Homo sapiens: one gene and its partners. The protein of the gene in region 4 purifies or fractionates together with the protein of the main gene of each other region. This does not show direct contact. Each region holds a gene or a part of one and is shown on either strand. Other genes may lie near its edges. The genes, in order: ROCK1, PLXNB1, MYO1E, DIAPH1, NSUN2, KIF5B and COPB1.

Region 1 (3,500 bases), on a different chromosome or scaffold from region 4:
GTTTTTTTAAAAGAAGTTCCTGCAACATACTAACATCCAAAAAAGTCTGGTCCAAACTAACCAGATATGCAATTGATACTAATAACACCTATTAACTCACAAACTAGGAACACTGGCAGAGATACAACTTTAAGGCTCAAAGATTTAATGACCTCAGGTCTTTTCATTCCAAGAGTAATATACCCCCAAAACAGATCAATTCAACTGGCAAGGCATACAGGGGATTAGACAGCAATAATCCAGATTCGAAAATGCTACCCAAAATCTGCTGTAATAACCCAATGTGTGGACTAACACTGTCAAAAAAGTTCACAACAAAAATTTCAGTTTAGCGACAGGGACAATAGTGGAATTAATGACAAAACAGATAAGTTTATGGGAGGAAGCTTGTTTTGGAATATGAGGGATTTGAGACTAACATGACATCCAAGTAGAAATGCTTACAAGGCAGTCAGATATTTAAGGTTTGAAACAAAAGACTAAAAATAAAGATTTGGGTATCATGTACATAGAGATAATAATAATTGAAGCTGTAAGAATGGATGAATTCTTCAAGAGAGTGAAGACAAAGATAAGTATGATAGGCCAAAGATTGAGGAAAAGAAAAAAAGAAGAATGAAAAGATGGGAAAGCACTAGGTCAAGAGAGCCCAGGAAGATAATTTAAAGGAAGAAAAACTCAAAGACTAACACCAGAAATTTCATTTACATTTATCTTCCACATTCTGAAAAACTCCCTAATAAGAAATAGTAGTGACAAACAGCACAGTGTTAGAACTCAACAGGCACTATTTGACTAATACTGGTTCCCTTCTGTCTCCTCCGCTCACCCGTTGCTACACCTCCACCAGCCAGAAGAGAAGTGGAAAGGTCATGTTCTTAACAGGCATCATGAAGCGATGTGCCAATAAATATGCTACAAGCAAGATATTTTCATGAAAAGTATGTCAAACTTCAAAACAAATGTATCTATAACCCTCCCAACCATTTTTGTTTTTCCTTTTTTTTGAGACAAGTTCTCACTGTGTCGTCCAGGCTGGAGTGCAGTGGCACAATCTCGGCTCACTGCAACCTCCCCGTCCTAGGCTCAAGCAATTCTCTGGCCTCAGCCCTCCAGGAGCGAGCCACTGCACCCGGCCTTGTTTTTCCTATTTAATTTACAAATCATAAGCATTTTTTCCTCTGCAAAGATTAAATAGACTTAACTAAACTCCATCCCTTATTCTGTTTTCAAAGGTACTCAAAATCACTGAGAAATTATTACAGGCCCTAGACAAAATAATTAGAAGATAAGGAAGTCCGGAAAAGAGAAATAGCTCCCGATAATCCTTATAAACTGTAACATGGACAGTAAGAAAGACAACCATTAGGACACTGGAAAGAATCTGACCTACAGAAAACCAAAGTTGACTAATTTGAATGCTCTAGGAAACAAGTGAATGGTTATCATAATGTATCTTAGTATTTGCAGACTATTTTAGCATTTATACATGATATGAAGATTGAACTTACTTAGTTCTTGAAAAAAATTACAGGTGTTCGAGAAAAGATTGGATAGCCACTTATCAGAGTTCTTCCAGCTACATTATTCTAAACTACTGCAGGTTGAGTATCCCTTGTTTAAAATGCTTGGAACTAGAAGTGTTTCAGACTGCAGACTTTTTCAGATTTTAAAATATTTGCATATACATAAGATACCCTGGGGATGGGGACCAAGTCTAAATAAGAAATTCATTTACGTCTCATACATACCTTATACACAACAACCTGAAGGTTATTTTTTGCAATATTTTAATAATTTTGTGCATGAAACAAAGTTCTGACTGCATTTTGACTGCAACCCATCTCACAAGGTCAGGTGGATTTTCCACTTATGGCGTCATGTCAGCACTCAAAAAGTTTCAGATTTTGAGCACTTCAAATTTCAGATTACGGATGCTATTCATCATTAGTGTCTCAACAAAAAAGCTGTTTAGTAGGTAAGGTAGTTTAAAAGGACATACACCAGCAAATTTCTGAAACCAAAAGATTTGGAAGTTTCCATTTCTAAGCATGAATCTAGTAAAGGAGGTAGAGAAGAAACAATTTGAAAACCTTATTTTTGGGATTACAAAAACAACTCTAGAACTAAAGGACTGCACGTGGCACATAATACACACTAATAAGTAAGTATCAGTTACACAAATCAACAAAAGTCAAAATAACAGAAAAAGGCAACCAATGTAAAAGGAGTTTTGTTCCTATAATACATGAGAGGTCCAAAGTCCAGATAGGGAAGAACAAGAACAGACTCACTGAAAAAGCTGAAGTCACCTGATAGGTCACCCTGAATGACACAATGAATGAATGAACGAACGAATGCTCAATGTTAAACATAAAACATCATGCGAAGAAAATTCATGCTAGATACTACAAACCCAGAAAAAGGATTTTTTGTCTCTAAAGGAAATTCAGTCTTGGGCCAGGCACGGTGGCTCACGCCTGTAATCCCAGTACTTCGGGAGGCCAAGGCAGGCGGATTCCTTGGGGTAAGGAGTACAAGACCAGCCTGGCCAACATGGTGAAACCCCATCTCTACTAAAACTACAAAAATTAGCCAGGCGTGGTAGTGCACGCGTGTAATCCCAACTACTCGTGGGGGCTGAGGCAGGAGAATCACTCGAACCCAGGAGTCGGAGGTTGCAGTGAGCCAAGATCGCGCCACTGCACTCCAGCCTGGGCAACAGAGTGAGATTCCATCTCAGAAAAAAAAAAAGGAAAATTCAGTCTTTACCAAGTTCAGATTGACGGGGTAATAAAATTTCAGTAACAGCTATCAATAAACAGCTGTGGAACTAAACAGAAAAAGAGGACAAGATTATAAGATTTGAAGGGGAAAAAACAACCAAATCTGTCTGTTGACTATTCTCTTTAACAAAATGTTGTTTTAGAAGTGTTGGGCTCCATGATACCTGGCTGTCCTAACTCTGGAGGCCTTGATGGCTTACCTCCTCCACTCTTCCTCTTTGTTCAACCTTCATCTTTCACCCTCATTTTTCCCTCCATTGTTTCTCCCTTTACCATTATATCAACTTGCACCTTTGTGCAAATGACTTCTAAATCATTATCTGTAATTATGAGCTCAGTTCTGTATCTCCAACAGTCTACAGGTCATTTTCTCATGATTGCTCCACTATCCCCTCAAACACAACGAATCTAAAATTGAATTTATCTGTAGGCCTATTCTTCACAAGCAATTTCCAAACCTGACTTTGCTATTTTTACCATTCTCCCTATAATCCAGGCTCAACCTCTTTAGAGTCATCTGACTATTGCCTCTCTCTTTGGTTCCCCATCTTTTCCCTGCCAATAAAGTTCCATTAATTCTTCTTTTCTCATTCTCATGCCCCAATTTTGGGCTTCAATCATTTCTGGACTATTACAATAATAACAATTTTAAAAAACTGTCCAATCTCACTGTCTCTCCAATCTTTTCCCATGCTAACCCATCTTCCACACACC
Region 2 (3,500 bases), on a different chromosome or scaffold from region 4:
GAGCAGGGAAGGACTAGCCCCAGGTGAGATGTCCGAAGCTGTGGCTGTGGAGGGAGCCCCAGGCTCCACGGGAAGGGTGTCAGGAGCAGGGGTGGCCAGGGCTTTGGGGGCTGTGGGTGGGGAGGGGCTGGGTCCACCTCTTGCAGGAGGGTCTGGGGAGACAAGCGGGCTCTGAAGGGGGAGGCAGAGGAAGACAGGAAGGGCCACTCAGCAGGCAGGCGCGGGACAGGAGGCAGGCAGGCACAGTGTATGTTAAGAGGAAAGGAGACCAAGGAAAAGAGAAATAAAAACAGCCCATTAATTCTCCACTGGAGAAAACTGCGGGGGAAGGCTCCAGGGGTGTCTGTGCCGAGGTGGGGCATGAAGGCCAGACATCCCCTGCCTCTCAGCTACAAATGCCCTCTCCCAAAACAGGCGGGATGTATCGGCGGCTGTTCTCCAGGGAGTCCGTCACATACAGCGGCTCTGGTGCTCAGGACAGAGCCTCACATAGGCAGACAGACCCCGGGCCATGAGAAAAACTCTCACACTGGGACCCCCAACCCCCCCGGTATGGCCCAGCCCAAAGTCACACTCACCTGATGGCTTGCAACCATGGGCCCAGCATCACACGAGGCCTTGTGGGTGCACAGGTGCTGCCAGACACACCAGTTACACCCCCAGCGGCTGCTCACACAGGCCTGGCACCTGCACAGAGCACAGCCATGGGGCAAGGGTCGCCACAGGGAAGCCCAGGCCTGGGGACAGGGCGAGGAACTCACTGCGCAGATGGGCGGAGTTCAGTGACCGCCACACAGTCATAGAAAGAGAGGGAAGTTTTGGCGATCACAACAGCGCCAAATCTGAGCTCCACGCTCACGGATACGTAGTCTGCAGAGGGGGAGAGAGGGCCAGGGTTAAGCAGCAAGGAGGTGCACTCAGACCCAGAGCCGATATCCTGAGCCCTTGAATGGGGAAGAGGACCCGGGATGAGGGAATACAGTCCAAGGGCACAGAATGGAGGCTTCAGGTGGTTGGGGAGTGGGAGGACCCAGAGAAAGGCATCCATTCATGGCTCTTTGCCTGGATTCACACTTTAACCCCACCGCATCCCCTGAAGCAGGGGCTGGCCCCCACCAGGCTGGCCCATTCTCTCACCCACCGGCTCCTCTCGGCAGCACTGGGGCCTCACTAGGGTCTGGGGAGGGGCACATCACACCAGAACCAGTCAGCAGGGCAGGACTCTGATGTTCCCCAAAGTGGCAGGAATATGACTCCCCTGGCCACAGGGGTGGCAGGTCTGGCACTGATAGGAAAACCTGCCAAGAGAGCCAGGGACACACTGTTGGGGCTAGTGGGCAGCAGACCAGGGCTCACATTTATGGGACACCCAATGTGGGCAGGCACCAGCAATCAACAGCCCTCAGGCCTCCCCAAACACCCTCTGGCCTGAGTTAGAAATAGATGGGGAAACTGAGCTCCTAAAAGAAGTGACTTGTGTGAGGCCATGTGGTATCTGGCATGTCCGACATCAGGATCCAAGATCTCTACCCAGACCTTGATGCCCAGAGCCCTCCCCACCAGGGCCCTGCCTATCTGATCATTCACCTCCCTCGTCTCCTCTCGGCTGATGTTGGCAGGACTCATGGCTGCCACTTGCAGACAGCCCAGCTCAGGCTGGAAGCTCCATAGCCACTGCTCTGGGCCCTGGCCCCTCGAGCACTCAGAACGGCGACTGCACCTGGGCGAGATGACCAGTGTCTATCTGTGACCCTCATGGGCCACTGGGAGTTCATAGGGTAGGGACTCCTACAATCTGGAGGACCTGGGCAGGGCCCTAGAGTGGGCATGATAGAGGCTCCTGTGTCTGCCCTGGCAGGGCACTGATGCCCAGTGCAGAGGATGGGGGTGAGGAATTGGGGTGTCTGGGGATCAGGGGTTGAGAGTCATGGTCTAAGGGTCAGGAATTCTGGACAGGACAATTATGCAGGAGCATTGTGGGCTTGAGGCTGGGGCTGGGATGGGGTCAGAAATCTGACCTGCCAAGGAGCACGCACCACCCACAGTATGGGTCCCTGTGAGCAAGGCAAGATGCACAGTCCAGGTGCTGAGCACAGGAAGCCACAGGAACCTTCAGAAGCTGAGACAGCAAAGAGGACCTGAGGCCAGCAATCCAAACACCAGTGGCTCACCCACAAGTGGGTCCCTGGCCCCACCCAGAGGCCCCTCCCAGCAGCCATGCCCTGGCTTGTGCCTGGCACTCACTGTGCTCTGGGTCATGACATACAGGTGCTCAAAGGTCCCATCAAAGGTGAGGTCTCTGCTCACTGCAGACCCCTGCTGGATGCTCTGTGTGGAGTATGGGTGGCCATCGCTCCCTGGGCCCAAGTAGACCTGGGATCAGAGACCACAGGGTCTGGGACCCAAGTCCATGGCCAGAGGCCCAAAGCCCTCCCCTCCTCCACCCAATCGAAGTAATTTACAAATAGAATTTCCTCCTAGGCAGTCACAGGTCATACCAACTGGCCTAGCGGGGATGGAGGAAAGTCACAGGTAAACACCACCCAGTCCTGGGGAGAGGAGCTCAGGTCATCTCTCCTGGCCCAGGGGTCACAGGGATAGCTTAAACCAGGCTGGGTCCCTAGCAATCTGTTCCCTCCAGACTCTGGGGCAGGGGCCAGTACTTCCTGTGGGCTCACCCTGTGCAGCTGCCCTTGACTATCACCCAGGAAAGCGATGGTGTGTCCATCTTCCATGGTGACTGCCACAGCTGTTAGCTGAATCCCTGGCCACTCCAGAATTGGTGTGGCTTCCAGCGGGACCCGGCTGGCCATGGGGCTGGGCGTGTGGTCTGAGCCACAGGGATAAGCATCCAGGGTGTCCTATAGGCAGCAAGAAGCATCAGGAAGGCCCTCCCTGGATAACCTCCTCGGCCGCATCGTCCCTGGACAACCTCATTCCCTCCCCCAGCCGCTCTGGTAGCTCTCCCTGTACAACTGTGTTTTCTCTGCTGGCCCTCCTGGGACAATCTCATCCCCGCCCCCAGTCTCTCTTCCCTTTTTTATCCATCCTGAGGCTACAGCTCATCAATCCCGACCTCACCTTCCTCTCCTGCTCAAGAACCAAAGGTCTCATTCCATTCTAGGTCCCTGTCCCTACCCAAGAACCCCCAAACACCCTCCCAATCCACCGACACAAGTGCCACCCCTCCAGCATCCTGGTCCAAGCCCATCCAGACACTGCTGCCACCCGCATGCCAGATTTGTGGTAAGGTACCCTTCCACTGCCCAGGCAACATAGGAAGCACTTAATATTTGCTGATCTGATCATCCTCGTGCTACCACCAGCTGCCCTCGGACTCTCTGGGCAGCTCCTTGGCTGCAAATGCTTGGCCAGTGGCCTCAGAGAGGCGGAAAAGTGGGGCAATACTGGAACTCACCACTGGCAGCTGTGCACAGTCAGAATTGACATCATACTCGATGTAGGCCACCTCGGTCCCATCCTCAGCACGACCCTCCCGG
Region 3 (3,500 bases), on a different chromosome or scaffold from region 4:
AGGACCCAGTGAGGAGGGATGCATAAATTGCCCCTAAAAGACCAAGTAGAATTTCTGGCAAGTAACGTTCCATAACTGGCAGGTTTTTGGGCCTGGCCTGGTAAACTGTCAACAGTATCCAAAACATGGCTCCGAACCATATTTCTCTGACAGTTTAACATAAATTCTTCCAGGTTCTGTTTAAAGCCATTTCCTCTTAGAAAGTAGCTGATTATCATCTGCTGACTATTAAGCTATGAGGTACTTAATATCCATTTAAGGTTTCGGTACAGCCAAGTCAAATTCAGCTTGCATCCTGGAACCTTGTAACAAGCAGCGATGTTACTTCTGGGCATCTTCTGTAACCACCTCCTCACGTCTCACTGACCTCATCCTGGCCCAGGGGTGCAGTTCCTTACTCCTAGAAAGCGCTAGCCCTTATAAGAATCTATAAACTTCCTAAAATAGAACTAACCTTTATTTTGCTTCCGGCAGTAGTTGGGCGCCCTTTCTTGTCAGCCTGCAGATTTTCCGGAAATAAAGACTTTATGAAAGGCCTGGAAAAGGAGAAAGAGAATGAATTAACAATCTGTAAGTACCTCTGGGGCTGAAAGCCTGCCTTTCTAGAGGATGGGGTGAAGGGCCGTCCCCAGGCACATAACCTTGGCTACAGAAAAGCCATCTGACTCACAGCGCGGGCCATCAAGATGTGACTTGGGGAAATGAACAACGGACAAAAGTCATGAAGGGAAAGAATTCTAAGATATAAGCAATTTGGAATCAAAGACTGCAAAATAAATTTTAAAACAATGCCTTTCCAACGTCCCTAGTCACAGGAATTGAGGTATATCTTGACAGAACATAACAGAGGGAGGTCAGTAGGGGATTTTAGGTTTTTGTTTTGTTTTTGAGACAGGGTCTCGCTCTACTGCCCAGGTTGGAGCGCAGGGGTTCAATCATGGCTCACTGCAGCCTCGACCTCCCAGACTCAAGCCATCTTCCCACCTCCGCCTCCTGAGTAGCTGGCACTATATATAGGCAGACGCCACCACGTCCAGCTAATTCTTGTATTTTCTTTAGAGATGGGGTTTCGCCATGTTTCCCAGGCTGGTCTCAAACAACTGGACTCAAGAGGTGCTCCTGCCTCAGCCTCCTGAAGTGTTGGGACTACAGGCATGAGGCACTGCGCCTGGCCAGCATGTGTTTGTTAAGACAAGCAAGATAGACCAGAGCTCAGGGAATTATATGAAATGTCTGGATTCAGTGCAGATGCTGCTTTGCTCTAGAGCAGAGTTTCTGAGTCTGGGCACCATTGGTATCTGCGGCTGAATAATTCTTTGTTGGGGGCCGAGGAGGGCGCCTCTTCTACATATTGTGGGATATTTAGCAGCATCCATGGTCTCTGCTCACCAGATGCCAGTAGCACACTGTTCCCAGCTCTACACAGAAAACCCTGACAAACTGCTTTTGAGTATGAGCAATTTTAAGCGGAGCAGTAACAAATCACCAGGCTCTGCCGGCTGAATATACTTTCTTTTTTTTTTTTTTGAGATGGAGTCTCGCTCTGTCACCAGGCTGGAGTGCAGTGGCGCGATCTTGGCTCGCTGCAACCTCTGCCTCCCAGGTTCAAGTGATTCTCCTGCCTCAGCCTCCTGAGTAGCTGGGACTACAAGTGCGTGCCACCACAGCTAATTTTTGTATCGTTAGTAGAGACGGGGTTTCAACATGTTGGCCACAGTGGTCTCGATCTCTTGACCTCGTGATCCACCCACCTTGGCCTCCCAAAGTGCTGTGATTACAGGCATGAGCCACTGCACCCAGCCTGAAGATACTTTCATTAGTGGTGCTATTTGAGCTGCATGTGTTTATACGTCTGCCTCACTAGCAACAGGGCAGGGACAATGCCTTACTCATCTTAGTGTCCCTGGTGTCTGAAGCATAGCATGGTGCACAGTTGGTCCATAATATGTATTTGCTGACTGGGTGAATGACGGGATCCATGTAAATTAGCAATCTGACATTCAAACTCAAACTCACTTCCTCCTCAATGACTTTTTGGGCATCTTGAATTTTCCAGGAAGTCTCCCCAGCAGTCTACTTTTAACTTGACCAGATACAACTACAGATTTTGACATCAAGTGTGTTTACAAAATAATAGGCCATGTCCGTATGACAGCAGTTTATGTGGAAGCAATAATAGCTCTTAAACTTGGCAGGAATTTTAATAATTTTTTAAAAACAATCTCTGGAAGCAAGTCTGCACCTGACTGCCATAAAACCCACAAGCCAGGACTTGTGGCTTACCTAAACATCTCAGAGAAGAACAAATTGATTATGTATGTTTTGAATAAAAAGAAATGCAAAATCTCAGAAATGGTGGTGTGGCTGCAAGGAAGCGCAGGGATGGAGAGCAGAGGGTGAGGAGGGGTAGGGAGCTACAGGGAGAGAAGTAAACGGAGCAGAACAGCTGACCAGGGCCTGAAAAGGAAACTCTTGCTTTGCTTTCATTGCAGTCAGCCCTTTAATAGGAAATTATCAGGCTCGCTGCTGTTGATCAGAGAAGCTGGCCTTGCTATTGTGACAGCTTAACTAATAGAGAGCAAAAGGGCAGCTCTTACTTGAAAGAAGCTCTAGAAATTGTAAGATCTGGCATGCATGGGCCTTGCCTCGCAAGCATGATGGACTTGCTCATGTAAATTACATCTTATGTGTTATCCAGGATCTTGAGAACCTTTTCAGGGAAAAGGGGAGGAAGGCAGAGGTGGTCTTGAGAGTTCTAGCAGCGTGCAAGGGGGATACCCTCCCTCTTCTACCCCTACAGCTGAAACAGGGTCTTGGGAGTTAAAATGGATCTCTTAGTCACTCCTTCTTTAGTTGTCCCTCCCAGAGTTCTCAAGCCATTTCTTCAGTACTTCAGGGACTCTGGTTAATGTGGGTCTTGCTAAGCCATTAACCATCTTTAAAAATTCAACGACCATGAAGAAGAGCTCAGGGGCAAAGTATCATAGAACCAGACTGTTCCACTCTTAAATAGTCAGAAATGGCCATCCCAATCCAAAGCCAGTGGGCTTATTTCTCCCTGATAATAGTATTGAAAGGTAGAAAGCCTGAGGCCCTGAAGGACCTGTAGATGGCACTTGGAATTTGGGGGCATGAAGTGTTAGGGACATAAAAGGGAGAGACTGATATAGAGAAAAGAAAGCTATTTTGAGAAACCAAATAGATTAAATGATAATCCAGACCCAATAGCATGAAGGAACAAAATGCTAACCACTAAACATCACAGGTGTTTTGTTTTGTTTTTGTTTTTTTCTTTATTAGAGACACAGTGTTCCTATGTTGCCTGGCTGGAGGGCAGTGGCTATTGACAGGAGTGATCACAGCTCAGTGCAGCCTCAAACTCCTAGGATCAAGTGATCCTCCTGCCTTAGCCTCCTGAGTAGCTGGGACTATAGGAACACACCACCACACCCAGCTCATAAGTTTGTTTTCATATTGAAAATTTCATCAAACCTATATCC
Region 4 (3,500 bases):
CGTGTGCAGCCCTCATCCCACATGTCAGCGGGACTCCACCTTCCCCCACTGCATCCTAGCCAGTACCTGGGGACAAACCCTGGAGTCCCAGGGGAAGGTGAAGGATACTTGGTGTGGGCTTTAATAGCATTACGAAGTTGTGGCTTACAACTAAGGGCAAGGAAATTGCTTTACAGAAAAGTATAAAAAGTCCCTGGTAGCAAGAGGTATCAGAGCAGCCCTTGTGCCTGTGCTCTGTAAAATACTGATTCCTAACAAACTCAGCAGCTCTGTGAACACCTCTTCATTTGCAGAAGGTTTGTGGCCCCTCAGGTTTAGAGGAGGGTGGCATGGGCTCAGTGCTGTGTGAGCAGTGTATGCTGTATTTCCGCTGCCCACAGAGAGAGCAGTGGGGGCGAAGGGGTAGGGAATCTGCAGCAAGAAAGAAGCAGAGACAGGAAACAGAGGGCCAGTAATTGAAACCATATGTTTCAACAAAGACATGCTTCTGGTAGTGAAACAGAGATTCTGCTGAAGAAAGAAGAGGGTGACCGGCTCCCCACCCGCTCCAAAAGTTCAATCCATTTAAAATCTAATTGTGCATACAACTGTGCTAAGGTACTAGGGACATAGTACTTTGTGAAATAAGCAGAAAGGGAAGACACGCCACAATTAAAAGATGGGAGGAGCGTCAGGAAAATATTTTACAGAAAAAAACCCGAAAGATTTAGTGGAGGGAATGAGAACAGGCCAGAGGAACCTTTGGATGGACAGAAGGAAAACAGTATATATCACAGCAATACCACAATCACAGGGGAATGAGAGAGAATGCAAGAGCGAGCAAAGGAGAGAAAAGGTAATAGTTTAACCAGGGCAAGTTGGAATGCGCATGTATCAGAATTGGGGTTAAAGTCCGGCATCAGGATCTCGGAGTGAAGACTGCCAAAAATCATTTGCCAGGAGGTGAGCTCAGACATGAGACTCTGCCTCTAGACTCTAGGCAGAGAAGTCTTCCCAACATTCCTATCTCAGCCCATCAACCCGTCTTCACTCCTCACCTGCATTCATGTCTATGAGTTGCTCTCTCTTCTGCTGCTTCTCTAGCCGCTCCTTCTCTGCCTTCTCCTTGGCTAGTTTTGCTCGCCTCATCTTTTCTTCTGTCTCCCGCCGCTTCTGGTTCTCCTTGACTGCTTGCTGGGGCAGGGAAGAGGAGGAAGGAACACATGGGCATTGTATACCTACTACCAGCCAACAGGAACCCAGGGGAAAGTGAGAAATGCCCACAAAAGATTCAGTCAGCAAGTATCCCTTGCTCACCAAAAACATATTCCGAAAATTGTGAAGATCCATGAAAAATTCTTCAACAGACAACTTCTTGGGGTCAAAGAGGAAGTACTCGCCCAGCTCCTTATAGAGGGTCTCCATGTTAGAATGCATCATCCGCAGCTTGTTATACTGTTCCTGTGCATCCTTCACAAAGCTGTGCAGCCAAGGAGTAAAGGACCAAGACCAAGACCAAGAAGCAGACCCACTTCTCTAGCCCAAGGAATTACTCAAAGATGAGTACTGGCATGCAAAGGGATGTTCAATACAGCACTGTTTATAACAGCAAAAACCAAAGCCATGTAGGTACCCCTAAATAGGGGAATAGTAAACCATGAACTATGGTACACCTATAAAAAAAGAAGGTGGCAGTTTAAACTGTTGTTTGTTTGTTTGTTTGTGTTTGTTTGTTTGAGACAGGGTTTTGTTCTATCGCCGGGCAGGAGTGCAGTGGCGCGATCTTGGCTCATTGCAACCTCCACCTCCTGGGTTCAAGCAATTCTCCTGCCTCAGCCTCCCAAGTAGCTGGAACTACAGGCGCGCACCATCACGCCCAGCTGATTTTTTTGTATTTTTAGTAGAGATGGGGTTTCACCATGCTGACCAGGATGGTCTCCATCTCTTGACCTAAAAGGAGGTTTTCTATAAATACTATTATGGAAACATGGCCAAGACATATGTGCAAAACACAATACAATGCAGTTTTTGTTTAAAATAAATGTATGAGGTGCAAATCAGAATAAAGTCCAGTGGCAGTGGTTACCTCTGGGGAGGGGAAAGAGAGGGAAGCATGTGTGAGCGTGTGTAGTGGAGACGGGGTACAGGCAGGGGAGTTGGTGGGACTTTTATGGTTGATCTGCATGGTGTGCTTCTACTCCACAACAATGGAATGCTCTCAGGAACTATGCAGCCTGGGCAACAAAGTGAGACCCCATCTCTAAAGAAAAAAAGGTTACAAAAAGTTTAGCAGGGCCTGGTGGCACATGCCTGTAGTCCCAGCTACCAAGGAGGCTGAGGGGGTAAGGATCGTTTGAGTCCAAGAGGTCAAGGCTGCAGTGAGGCGTGATGGCACCACTGCACTCCAGCCTGGGTGACACAGAGAGAGCCTGTCTCAAAATACTAACAAACCCAAAAAACTATGTATTTAAAGAAAAAGAGTTTTTTAAGAGAAAAAAATTGCATACTGCCCTATCTATCCTGTTTTTCCCCCACTACAGGAAGTTTTCTTTCCCTTCCTAGGGAACAACTCCCTCCTTTCAAGAGAGGATATGGTCATTTTTTCAACAAACTTGTCTTTTTCATCTGTGGCAGCTGGGAAATTCTGAACATCACGTTCCACATCAGAAATTTGTTTCTTCATCTGATCTAGGTTCTTTTGCAAGTTTTCAGCAGAAACTAAAAAAAAAAAAAAAAAAAAAAACCATAAAAACAGACAGCAAGAGCTTACTAATAATCCCAGCCTCAACACCCCTTAGTTTCACCTTTCAGAGCATAGCTTCAGTCTATACACACATTCTGGTACTTAATAATTTTAGTTCCTTATGTACTTTAGTTGTGTCACATACTTAAGTTTTCATCTTTCCAGTGAAACTATAAATTATTTGATCATTGAACCTCCAGCCTTCACAAGGTATGCAGTACTAGGAACAGAAGAGAGACTTCATTTAATTTAACATGAATCTATGAAATCCCCTGAGATCTTGGTCTCATTTATTTTAGAGAACAGGGTTTGGGAGGAAGGAGATATACATAGAAATATAGAGGCGGGGGCAGAAATCTGTTCCAATTTCCAGTGAATGCTGCTTTTTCTTTGTCTAGTTCCAGGACAGTGAGGCCTAATTTTTGTTAATGTAGTCTATGTTTTCTTAATGAAAAGAACTATTAACCTAGACTAAAAACACCTGCCTTTCTAGCTGTTTTTTGGTGTTTGGTGTTTCCTTAGGAAGAGAAAGAGTGCTTCCTATTTCTACACATAAAGATCTCTCCTCAGCCATACGCTCTGCCCTTGTGACTTAGGCACCATGCCTAAATCCTATCTCATTTCCACTTGAAATAGTCTGAACTGAAAATGCTCTCACATCTAGACTGTGTCTTATTTCCCTCCCCATGCAGAGACTTTTGGGCTCTAGCTTCATTCCAAACTGCCCCACCTCGGCTGGCTTTCTCCACATGGGCAAGCTCGTCTGGAAACTTGAGGA
Region 5 (3,500 bases), about 130 Mb from region 4:
AAAAAAAAAAAAAAAAGAAACTAAGATACGTACATATCACTCTCTATCCAAAGTGAAAAGAAGAAAAAAAGGACTAATTATATTAAGAAAAAATGGTTTCATCAAAACAAACAGGCATGACACTGGTAACAAGCTGCCCGCCCCCACGTTTCTAGTTGCTATATGCTACCTTATGATGAGGCCGCACGTTGAGGAGCAGTGGTGGGATCATGCTAACAGCTTCTTGACGACTAATATTTCCCTTGAGGAAAAAAAAAAAATCAGCAACAATTAGGAAAAAAAAAAAAACCGCAGACAATTTCAATCTTTGGCATTGTTTCAAAGGCAACAGGAAAACAGCACATAATCTTATACAGAATGAGAGAACTCATACTATCACACAGAACACTAAATGAGATGGATCTGTACACTAGCGGACAAATGGTTGCTATACCATTCAAATATTAGAAATTCAGGTATAATACCAACTTCCATGAAAGAAAAGGGACTTGAAGCTTACAGAGCCCCAACTCCCCATAGCAGTAGAGCACAGAAGCTAGAGGGGCAGCTCTCAAAGACAGAAATGCTATTAAATATTTAAACAAATACCTTCAACAGACAGCATCAACTTAGGACAGAAAGTGACTGTCAAATGGTTTTTCCTTCTTGCCTAAAATTCTATTTCTTAGTCCTCCACTATTTTCAGACATAGCCCATGCCCACTTTCTATTTCTCATAACTACCTTTCAAAGAGATGAAGACATCAACCACTGCTTCCATCTTTCCATCTTTAGACCTTCAATATCTAAAATTCCTCACCACACTCCCTGCCCTCTGTCTTCTCTAGTCGGCCAGGACATCTGTTACAAGGCAGAACTATTCAGGTGCAGACAAAATCCTCCTGCCCTGCCCAGCACTAGCCTCAACCACACCTCTACTTTAATCGCCTTGAAGCTGAGGCTTCTGCTCCAACACAACCCTACAAAAGCTGGGACTTCTGGAAATGAACAGCCACCCAGGCATCCATCACTCACCTTAAACTCAGGCATGTGACTGTCAAGAGCCTTAAATACAGGCTTTTACACTGATGGCTGCTAATTTTCACCTCATGGGTTTCTGGCCAGCATGAGTCTGTGGTGATTCACTCACTAGGCACACTGATTCCAAGCTTTTGAGTTATACGTGTGATCCTGATATGCCTGCCTTCTGTATCCATCCAAGGTTTTGATTAAAGCATTAAGTAAGATGGGGACATCCCGGCAGACAGTAACCAGATTCATGACCACCCTGTGTAGATGTTTTGTGGCCAGCTTTCCATAACCCAGAGGTTATTGCCATTCATCTCAAGAGCTCTCATCACGCTGACTCCTAATCAAAAACCTATACTAGTTCCCTACAACATTTGCTACCCACCCTAAACTCCCATCTCCTCCATCTTCCAAACATGCCAAAACCTGGCTCTTCCAACCTATCCATGTGTATCACACCCCACAAACCCCACGCTCTCTTCCAAGTGCAAACCTGAGCTGTTCTCTAGCAGCTTACTGATCTCTATTTGGCCTTCCATCTAGATTGAAAGTTGAGCAAGAGAATCCTTTCGTGCACTGGTCTCAAGTACGAAATGGGGTTATGTGGCAGCACTTAGTTCCTGGTTCTTGTTACTATTCAGGAAGGAAAAGCCAGGCAGACACAAGCCCAGTTTAGTCGGTTACTTAGATGACAGAAGGCCAAAGTGAAAAAGAACCATAATCTGGTGACACACAGATTTACTAGAAGGTAGTAGTTTAGAAAATAGGAAGGACGAAACCTCTGATTTTAAATGTGAGACTAAGAATTCCAAAAAAAATACCCAAACTTTATGGGCATTCATTGAATTATTTAGTACATAAGCAAATAGCTGTTTTGCTGGGGATGCTCTGATGCTAAAGGTAAAAAGCTCAGCACCTTAACTGCACTCAAGGAATGTGGGTGGCTACGGAGAATGTGAAGACAGATGCCGTCCTGTGAGGACCAAAGCTGTGCTTAGGGGTTTTGTGGTGCTTAGGTGTTTTGTGGTTACCAAGAGCAATGTGTGGTAAGAAAAAAAAAAAACACAGTAAAAAGTAAAATCAAAAGCTTCATTTTTAGTAAAATAAATCAATTTTAAAAAACAGAACCAAAAACCTATTCCCTACCAAGATGGCCTTAAAAACATACTACTTTTTATGTACAACAGGCATCTGAAATGTGTACCTAAGAAGGAAATGAGAGTGCAGTGCTCACCCCAACCCTATAGCCATCCAAATACACAAGCAAGAGGAAACAAGAAATTAACTAGCTGGCATCGATATCCTTACTAAATTTCATGACTAGATAAACCAAACAAGGCAACGGATATACAAATAATCAGAAATCACAGGTGGTGCACACACTGCAGTTGTCTTTACTGTGTGTGATGTCCACCTACTGCTTCTAGTGACAAGAACCTAAAAACAGAACTACACTACATCTATGCATTTACAGCTTTAAGGAAACTAGCAAGTCTAAAGAAATCAACTTACAGATTCTGTTTCACTAACTAGAAACTGATGAAACTTTTCCAAGTGTGGCGATTTTCTCAAGATTTTTCGACTTAAATTTGTGTGCCAGGCAAGTTCTTCAGGATACCTGACCAAAAAGAAAGCAAAACATTTATGGATTATAAATACTAAAGTCGTCTGTTGACAACTTTGTGCTTCTATCAGTCGCATGCCAAATGAGACTTCGAATGTTGTTCTCCCTGCTCCTATTCACAATCCTCTACGGACAGTCAGCAACACTCAGAGATGTCGCTGTAGGCTTAAGGAACATGGCTCTAGCTACACCGTGGCCCAATCAGAAACAGGAGAGCCATGGGGGTTACAAGATTATGCATATTACTGTAAAATTATAATGATGAAACGCTCGAGATCAGATGAAAAAGCGGACACTCCTCTGCTCTTCACCATTATAAGGTAACAATGGTAAGGTCATCAGAAAAAAAAGATACAAGATGACTTACTTAATGTGCAGATCACACAGAATCAAAATAATGCAGTGTCAGAGTGTCCCACAAATACCTGATTAGTTTTTTAAAAAATATATTTTTCATTATTTCTAACACCAGTTCAATAATGCACTAAAATATTTTACATACCAAAAAAATCCTACCTTGGAAACCACTAATGCATTAACTTGAGCTCCTAGGCTGTTACCTATATATAACTAAGAATAAAGCATTTCCTGCCATCATATCTGTGAATATATTTGAACTTTCTATAAATGATGACATCAATGTTATTTTTATTTTTTTTATTTTTTTTAATTAGGGGAGAAATGGGGGATACTAAAAACACTGCCTTTTTTTTTTTGAGACAGTCTCACTGTCACCTAGGCTGGAGTGTAGTGGTGTAATCTCAGCTCACTGTGACTTCTGCCTCCTGGATTCAAGTAATTCTCATGCCTCAGTCAGCCACCTGAGTAGCTGGGATTACAGACGTGTATTTTCAGTAGAGATGTGGTTT
Region 6 (3,500 bases), on a different chromosome or scaffold from region 4:
AGCAGAAAGTGACTTGTTGATGTTTTTAGCTTCATCCAGCACAGCACCTTCAGCTCCAGTTTTACTAACCTATACATAAGATTTCAAAAGAATGAAACAAAATTACAAGTTTATAATTTTCTTTACATTTTCTAAAATGTTCATATGTCATCAATAACCAGTAAAAAAGAAAAAAGAACATGAAAAGCTTCATGATCTTATTTGCCAAGCATACCACCATTTCTTGAGTACTACTCTTAAGAGTTTGATTAGAGAGACATCAAATTTTATCTGTAGTTTGTAGGTACTCTTGAAAATAACCAATTTAAATGTAAATTTGTAGTTCATTAATCTGTTAGTCCCCTTTGCTACATTAGAAAACAGGAACCTTCTAAAATTGGCTAATGCATAATGTTGATGTTGTAACTGTTAGAAAACAGAGACTGAGTTTTAAACACATTATATAAGCAAATCTGCTTCTTTTAAAAATATATAAAATATCTAAATATCTATGTTGTGGTGTTTTTTTTTTGGAGACTGAGTCTCACTCTGTCACCCAGGCTGGAGTGCAGTGGCTTGATCCCAGCTCACTGCAACCTCCGCTTCCCGGGTTCAACCAATTCTCCTGCCTCAGCCTCCCCAGTAGCTGGTATTACGGGCATGTGCCACCATGCCCAGCTAGTATCTATGTTAAAGATAGGTCAGAACAATAAATTAGCAATGTTGGCTGAAGAAATAGCTTAGGAGATTTCTCAGATTAGATAATCTTTGAAAGATGTGTGTAAGACTTCAGAGTAGAACGGAATAGATATATCATTCTAAGCAGAAGAAACAAAATTAGCACAACAGCAAAAATGGTCAGAGGTCCCTATTATAACATTCAAACTTAATTTGATATAGACTAGAATCAGACTGTATAGAATTGTAATAATGAAACAATAATCCAAAGGAAAGAAATAAGTCCAACCAAACCAGAAAAGACTAATCGAGAGTTACCAGTTTTAATAGGGACCCCACTGCCAATATGGATAAAATACGTATCAAAAATTAGAAAAGGGATATCTAATAAAGTTTATAACAACATATGCTGAACCAGTTCTCACTATGAACATATCTTAAGTCATAGAAACCACTTATGGGTTGAACTAGAGTATGGTCAAACAACAGTAACTTGGAACTGATTATTCAGCTGATATCATCATAAGGCACTGGCATCAGCGGTTACAAATCTCAGGTTACCAAATCCAGTTTGGTAAGTAAGATGCAACAATGAACCCTGCGTAACTCCCAACTCAAACTAAAGTTTACAAAGATGCTTAAATATTTGTCAAAATACATGAAGACTTTACCTTTTCACTACCAGCTAAATCAACCAGATAAAGTTTTCCACTCAGCTTTTGTTCCGTTTGTGTGTTCTCTTGTTTGACATTAATAAGAAATATACTGTGACTCCTAGAGCTATGTTCATTCATATCTGCAAGGAAATTACACAAACAAATATAAACAAACATGATTTCCCCTTAACAATTTCCCTGAAGCAATCTTATAATTAATCACCTGGATAAGGATATTTTAAGCTGGTTTTAAATCCTAACCAGTGTTATTTTCTACTTACTTGTAACTGCTACATGTCTGTTGGATTTTCCTTCATCTATGGTATCCATAACTTCATCTGGACTACATACAAAACGCTCTGTGCACCCCTGTGAAATAATTTTTAAAAATATGTTAATGTCTGGCCAACATGATGAAACCCTTTCTCTAATAAAAACACAAAAATTAGCCGGGCGCGGTGGCGGGTGCCTGTAATCCTAGCTACTTGGGAGGCTGAGGCAGGAGAATCGCTTGAGCCTGGGAGGCAAAGGTTGCAGTGAGCCGAGACCATGCCATGCACTCCAGCCTGAGCAACAGAGCGAGCCTCCATATATTAAATGAATTGGCTCACGCCTGTAATCCCAGCACTTTGGGAGGCAGAGGCGGGCGGATCACGAGGTCAGGAGTTCAAGACCAGCCTGGCCAACATGGTGAAACTTCGTCTCTACTAAAAATACAAAAATTAGCTGGGCGTGGTGGCGCATGCCTGTAATCCCAGCTACTCAAGAGGCTGAGGCAGGAGAACTGCTTGAACCCTGGAGGCAGAGGTTGCAGTGAGCCGAGATTGCACCACTGCACTCCAGCCTGGGCGACAGAGTGAGACTCTGTCTTAAAAAAAAAAAAAAAGTATTACAGGGTTTTCTAGACAACTGTACTATAAATACCTTTACATAGGGAACTCGGTTTTTGTCTTCATGAACTGAAAGGTTGGTCTTTGAAACTGAGAAAGAAAAACAAATGTTAGCAACATTCTCCTAAAACTCTTAACACTGGATATGAAATAACTGATAGGCTTTCCTGAGCAGCCTAACAGCAATAGTTGAACTCTAAAAACATATTAAAACATTGCTCTAAAGCAGACCTTACAGACACAGCAGGAGATGTAAATAGAAACCAATGCAACAATATAGAATTTTAGGACCACTCCAACCTACCACCCACATTTTATAAACAAGAACATTAACCCTGAATGGTTCAATGATTTGCCTAAGGACAATGTATCTAATTGACAGTTGACAGAAGACTAGAACTCAGGGCTCAGATTATGTAACTCCCAGTCCAATGCTCTAATTACTACTAAGAAGTACCCATAAACATCGCTTTAAACTAGTTATTCTATTTAAAGGTATTCAACTAAAACTTTAGAAGAAAAAAAATTTTGTCTATTTCCAATAACTTAAGACAATTTCATATAGGTTACAAAGAAATAGTCTCACATCTATTATTAAAAAGGAATTAACAGATGTTATTTAAAACTGATTAGCAAGAATTTAACTTACCATCTAACAGGTCCCTTATCTTATCCAAATATATTTCAAAATATGAAACCTAAAGGGCAAATTTAAAAAAACACCGATCAACTAAAGTTATATAACTTATTCGCATATTGAGGTCTGAGTGCTAGGCATTGTTTAGACTAGAGAGACAGTTATCAACATACCAGCCATAGCTCACATTCTAATGGGAAGACATAAATTAGCCAAATTAGCTTAGTTATTTAAGCAGTCTTCCCATTGGACATAAATTACATTATCTTCATCTAAAATGAATTAGAATAGTTTTATGTAGTAGAAACCTTCAAGTTCTGCAGTAAAGCAACCTCCTTTATTTTTTGAAGGAGGCTAAAGACTTAATCATTTACGTTAGTTAACATTCCTGTTCATCTAATGGCAGATGAACAAAAATCCAAGTTTACTAACCTGAATGATCTTTCAACTGTACCTTTCCAGAAAAACAATTTTTAAAATTAAAGAAACCAGCATTTACTATTTTTTTAGAACATTATTCTTGCTGTAAAATAAAATATAATCTTTCCTCAAGGAATTTACCTTAATATGAAATTCCAAATTTTCATCCATGGAGTAAATATAATTAAAAATATCTTGCACTATTCTTGGAATAATTCCCATGCCTTCTGGATCATGAAG
Region 7 (3,500 bases), on a different chromosome or scaffold from region 4:
CTTTTAAAATATTACTGTTCATTGACAATTTAGCTGGTCACCCAAGAGCTCTGATGGAGATGTAGAAAGAAATGAATGTTTTCATGCCTGCTAAGACAACATCCATTATGCTGCCACTGATCAAGTAGTTTCAACTCTTATTATTTAAGAAACAGAATCCATAGAACATTTGTGGTAGTAGCGCAGAGTTGGTTACAATGTCCTACCACAGCAATTTCTGACATTCAAATTGGGCCTGTAGCAATGGGACTCCTTTTGATTCCTTCAGCTTTCGTATTATGTTGGTTATCTATACAGCAGGTTTCTAAATTGAAACACTTTCACTCACATCACTCATATTTCCTTCGTTTTTGGAGACTAACAGCTTGATCTAAAAAAAAATTTTTTTTTAGACGGAGTCTCACTCTTCTTGCCCAGGCCGGAGTGCCATGGCATGATCTCAGCTCACTGCAACCTCCGCCTCCTGGGTTTAAGCAATTCTCCTGGCTCAGCCTCCCGAGTAGCTGGGGCTACAGGCGCCTGCCACCACGCCTGTCTAATTTTTTTTGTATTTTTAGTAGAGACTGGGGTTTCACCATGTTGACCAGGCTGGTCTCGAACTGCTGACCTCAGGTGATCCGCCCACCTCGGCCTCCCAAAGTGCTGGGATTACAGGCATGAGCCACCGTGCCTGGCCAGGTTCTTTTTGTTTTTGTTTTAATTCCATTATAAGAAAAGCCATAAATGAGAGCCAGATAATTTACAAGGTATATTATCCCTTAATTGATTTGATTTTTGAGCAATAATTTATTTTGTAACTCTTTTGTGGGCATTTATTTATTCAGGTCTGGTCACAGTATAATCTTTAAAGTATGTTTTTTAAAAGTCTCCAACATTTTTTTATCTCAGAGTTGAATTTGCTTTCCTCTCCTGGTTGCATCACTTCTGGAAGTTGGGAGTGTTTACTGATACCTGCTTAAAAGAGCCAGTTTCTTGTAACATACCGAGTTAATAATGTTTGCACTGTTTGGTACAAGAAGGAAGTTTGGTTGCTTATAATCTCACTGGCACTCCTTCATTTATGCCATTTCCAACACTCTTCATTTCTTTGTGTAGGACTAAGTTTCTGGTATCATACATCTTTTGCCTAAAGAATTTGCTTTAACTTTTCTTATAGTGCAGATTTGTTGGCAACAGATTGTTCCAGTTTTTGTCTGGAAAAAGCCTATTTTTTTGTACACTTTAGAAAGTTACCTTTGTGGGTATAGGATTCTAAGTCTTCTGTTTTTTTTTCCCAGTAGTGTAAAAGTAAAGCTCCATTGTCTTCTGGCTTTTTGGTGAGAAGTCTACTGTCATTCTTATCTCCCTGGGTGTAGAGAGAGAGAGAGTGTGTGTGTGTGTGTGTGTGTGTGTGTGTGTGTGTGTGTGTGTGTATTTCTTCCACTGGTTTTAGATTTTCTCCTTTTCACTTGGTTTCAGTAATTTGATTAGGATATGCCTTAGTGTGGTTTTCTTCATGTTTGCTGTACTTGTGGTTCATTGAGCTTGTTGGGTTTGCAGGTTTATATCTCCATCAGTTTGGGAAATTTTCAGTCATTTCCTCGGATTTTTTTTTCTGTCCCCTCCTCTCTTTCCTCTCCTTTTGGAGACAGTATCCAAACTTGGGGGACATATACTTACTCTTCTGCTGGTTTTTCCCAGGCCTCCAGTAGTTTTTCATGCATGTGTGCAGATCAGTACTCAGCCAAAGGCAATTTGGCAAGGGCTTAGAGCATATGTGTCAGGATAATGCTACATGAGACTAAAAAAGTAAGTTGCAATCACTTGTGGAAGACTTTGAATAGCGAGCTAAGTAATACGGACTTCAGTATGAAGGCTGACATTCATTAAAGGTATTTACATAGGGAATGAAATGATTGGTGCAGTATAAAGATTAAGATAGCAGCATCAGGTGATCACGCTTAGCAGCACAATAATTGGACAGCCTAACTTTAGGTACCTTGTGATGCAGTACAGGGTGAAATACAAAACATCACCTATCTGGTATTCTAATCAAAAGTGTGGGATATTCTATAAAACAACTGGCCTCAGTTCTTTAAAAAAGTTAGTGCGATTAAAAACAAAACGGCAGAGAACTGGTCTAGATTAAGAGGGATAAAATGCATGAAGCTGATCCTGGATTTAAAAAATAAAACAAAAACATTTTAAGACAATTTAGGGAGATTTATTTGAATTCAGAGTATAGAAGCTGTATTTTGGAATTGTTGAATTTTTCAGATGAGAAAATGAAATTGTGGTTTGTAGGAAACTGTTCTGACTCTTAGGAGATGAATGCTGAAGCATTTATGAGGTGAAGACTTTTTCACATGTCAGCCAAAAAAAATAAGTGTACATATACAGAATAGGTAAGCAAATGTGGCAAAATGTTAACAATTGGTAAAGTATATCATTCTTTTAACTTTTCTGTAGTTGGGATTAAAAAGGACAGCATCAGCATATGAAGTGGTTACAGAGAAGGACTGGAGCAAGGGAAAACAGTTAAAAAGCCTCTGCTGTCTCTAATTGAGGATTAATGCAGGTCTTAGAGAGTGGCAGTTAAGAGTAGAAAGGAAGGAGAAGAATGCAAAAACAGATATGGACATAAAATCCAAAGAATTTGAAATCTTATTCAGGTGAAGTGAAAATTTAGATTGTGAGTTATAATGAAGTGACATGATTGCAATCTGAGAATCAAGACAATATCAGTAACCGATTTCTTTACTTTCTTAGTCTTTTGTTGCTGAGGCTATGTTGCTCATGGCTACTATCCTGCATTTGGGAAAATCCTCTCTTCCTAAGAAGCCAATTACTGATGATGATGTGGATCGAATTTCCCTGTGCCTCAAGGTCTTGTCTGAATGTTCACCTTTAATGAATGACATTTTCAATAAGGAATGCAGACAGTCCCTTTCTCACATGTTATCTGCTAAACTAGAAGAAGAGAAATTATCCCAAAAGGTAAGGTATATATGATGAGGCAACAAAAGTGTTTTGTGTCTCTTCGTGCAGTGGCTCACGCCTGTAATCCCAGCACTTTGGGAGGCTGAGGCAGGAGGACTCCTTGGGGCCAGGTGTTTGAGACCAGTGTGGGCTACATAGCAAGCCCCTGTCTCAACAAAAAAAATGAGAAAATTAGCCAGGCATGGTGGTATGTGCCTGTCATTCCAGCTACTTGGAAGGCTGAGGATGAAGGATCGTTTGAATCTAAGAGTTCGAGGCTGCAGTGAGCTGTGATCATACCACTGCACTCCGCCTGGGCAACAGAGTAACAGCCTGTCTCAGGAAGAAAAAAAAGAAAAGAAAAGTGCTTTGTGGGTTTTCTTGTTGTTTTGTTGATTTTTCAGTTTTCATATGTGAGGGCTGTCTCTGTCAAAAGCCTCTAAAAAACTATCTTTTCATATTAAAGAGAGACTTTGTTATATTCTCAACACAGAAAGAATCTGAAAAGAGGAATGTGACAGTACAGCCTGATGACCCCATTT

What was found.
Region 1: the proteins of DIAPH1 (region 4) and ROCK1 fractionate together in Homo sapiens (co-fractionation; one large-scale study listed by BioGRID). This does not show direct contact.
Region 2: the proteins of DIAPH1 (region 4) and PLXNB1 purify together in Homo sapiens (affinity purification with mass spectrometry; one large-scale study listed by BioGRID and IntAct). This does not show direct contact.
Region 3: the proteins of DIAPH1 (region 4) and MYO1E fractionate together in Homo sapiens (co-fractionation; one large-scale study listed by BioGRID). This does not show direct contact.
Region 5: the proteins of DIAPH1 (region 4) and NSUN2 fractionate together in Homo sapiens (co-fractionation; one large-scale study listed by BioGRID). This does not show direct contact.
Region 6: the proteins of DIAPH1 (region 4) and KIF5B fractionate together in Homo sapiens (co-fractionation; one large-scale study listed by BioGRID). This does not show direct contact.
Region 7: the proteins of DIAPH1 (region 4) and COPB1 fractionate together in Homo sapiens (co-fractionation; one large-scale study listed by BioGRID). This does not show direct contact.

The regions. Positions count from the first base shown.
Region 1 is NC_000018.10:21,105,314-21,108,813, forward strand, and holds part of ROCK1 (rho-associated protein kinase 1), read right to left. Parts: intron 1-3,500. UniProt on the Homo sapiens protein: Protein kinase which is a key regulator of the actin cytoskeleton and cell polarity.
Region 2 is NC_000003.12:48,420,087-48,423,586, forward strand, and holds part of PLXNB1 (plexin-B1 precursor), read right to left. Parts: coding exon 3,419-3,500; intron 2,862-3,418; coding exon 2,679-2,861; intron 2,374-2,678; coding exon 2,245-2,373; intron 2,120-2,244; coding exon 2,019-2,119; intron 1,721-2,018; coding exon 1,588-1,720; intron 1,299-1,587; coding exon 1,142-1,298; intron 871-1,141; coding exon 762-870; intron 688-761; coding exon 579-687; intron 172-578; coding exon 1-171. UniProt on the Homo sapiens protein: Receptor for SEMA4D. Plays a role in GABAergic synapse development. Mediates SEMA4A- and SEMA4D-dependent inhibitory synapse development. Plays a role in RHOA activation and subsequent changes of the actin cytoskeleton.
Region 3 is NC_000015.10:59,201,872-59,205,371, forward strand, and holds part of MYO1E (unconventional myosin-Ie), read right to left. Parts: intron 537-3,500; coding exon 455-536; intron 1-454. UniProt on the Homo sapiens protein: Actin-based motor molecule with ATPase activity. Unconventional myosins serve in intracellular movements. Their highly divergent tails bind to membranous compartments, which are then moved relative to actin filaments.
Region 4 is NC_000005.10:141,525,001-141,528,500, forward strand, and holds part of DIAPH1 (protein diaphanous homolog 1), read right to left. Parts: coding exon 3,453-3,500; intron 2,698-3,452; coding exon 2,573-2,697; intron 1,462-2,572; coding exon 1,297-1,461; intron 1,174-1,296; coding exon 1,038-1,173; intron 1-1,037. UniProt on the Homo sapiens protein: Actin nucleation and elongation factor required for the assembly of F-actin structures, such as actin cables and stress fibers. Binds to the barbed end of the actin filament and slows down actin polymerization and depolymerization.
Region 5 is NC_000005.10:6,623,045-6,626,544, forward strand, and holds part of NSUN2 (RNA cytosine C(5)-methyltransferase NSUN2), read right to left. Parts: intron 2,626-3,500; coding exon 2,520-2,625; intron 242-2,519; coding exon 170-241; intron 1-169. UniProt on the Homo sapiens protein: RNA cytosine C(5)-methyltransferase that methylates cytosine to 5-methylcytosine (m5C) in various RNAs, such as tRNAs, mRNAs and some long non-coding RNAs (lncRNAs).
Region 6 is NC_000010.11:32,035,926-32,039,425, forward strand, and holds part of KIF5B (kinesin-1 heavy chain), read right to left. Parts: coding exon 3,402-3,500; intron 2,902-3,401; coding exon 2,853-2,901; intron 2,294-2,852; coding exon 2,238-2,293; intron 1,683-2,237; coding exon 1,595-1,682; intron 1,454-1,594; coding exon 1,329-1,453; intron 70-1,328; coding exon 1-69. UniProt on the Homo sapiens protein: Microtubule-dependent motor required for normal distribution of mitochondria and lysosomes. Can induce formation of neurite-like membrane protrusions in non-neuronal cells in a ZFYVE27-dependent manner.
Region 7 is NC_000011.10:14,468,812-14,472,311, reverse strand, and holds part of COPB1 (coatomer subunit beta), read left to right. Parts: intron 1-2,748; coding exon 2,749-2,976; intron 2,977-3,451; coding exon 3,452-3,500. UniProt on the Homo sapiens protein: The coatomer is a cytosolic protein complex that binds to dilysine motifs and reversibly associates with Golgi non-clathrin-coated vesicles, which further mediate biosynthetic protein transport from the ER, via the Golgi up to the trans Golgi network.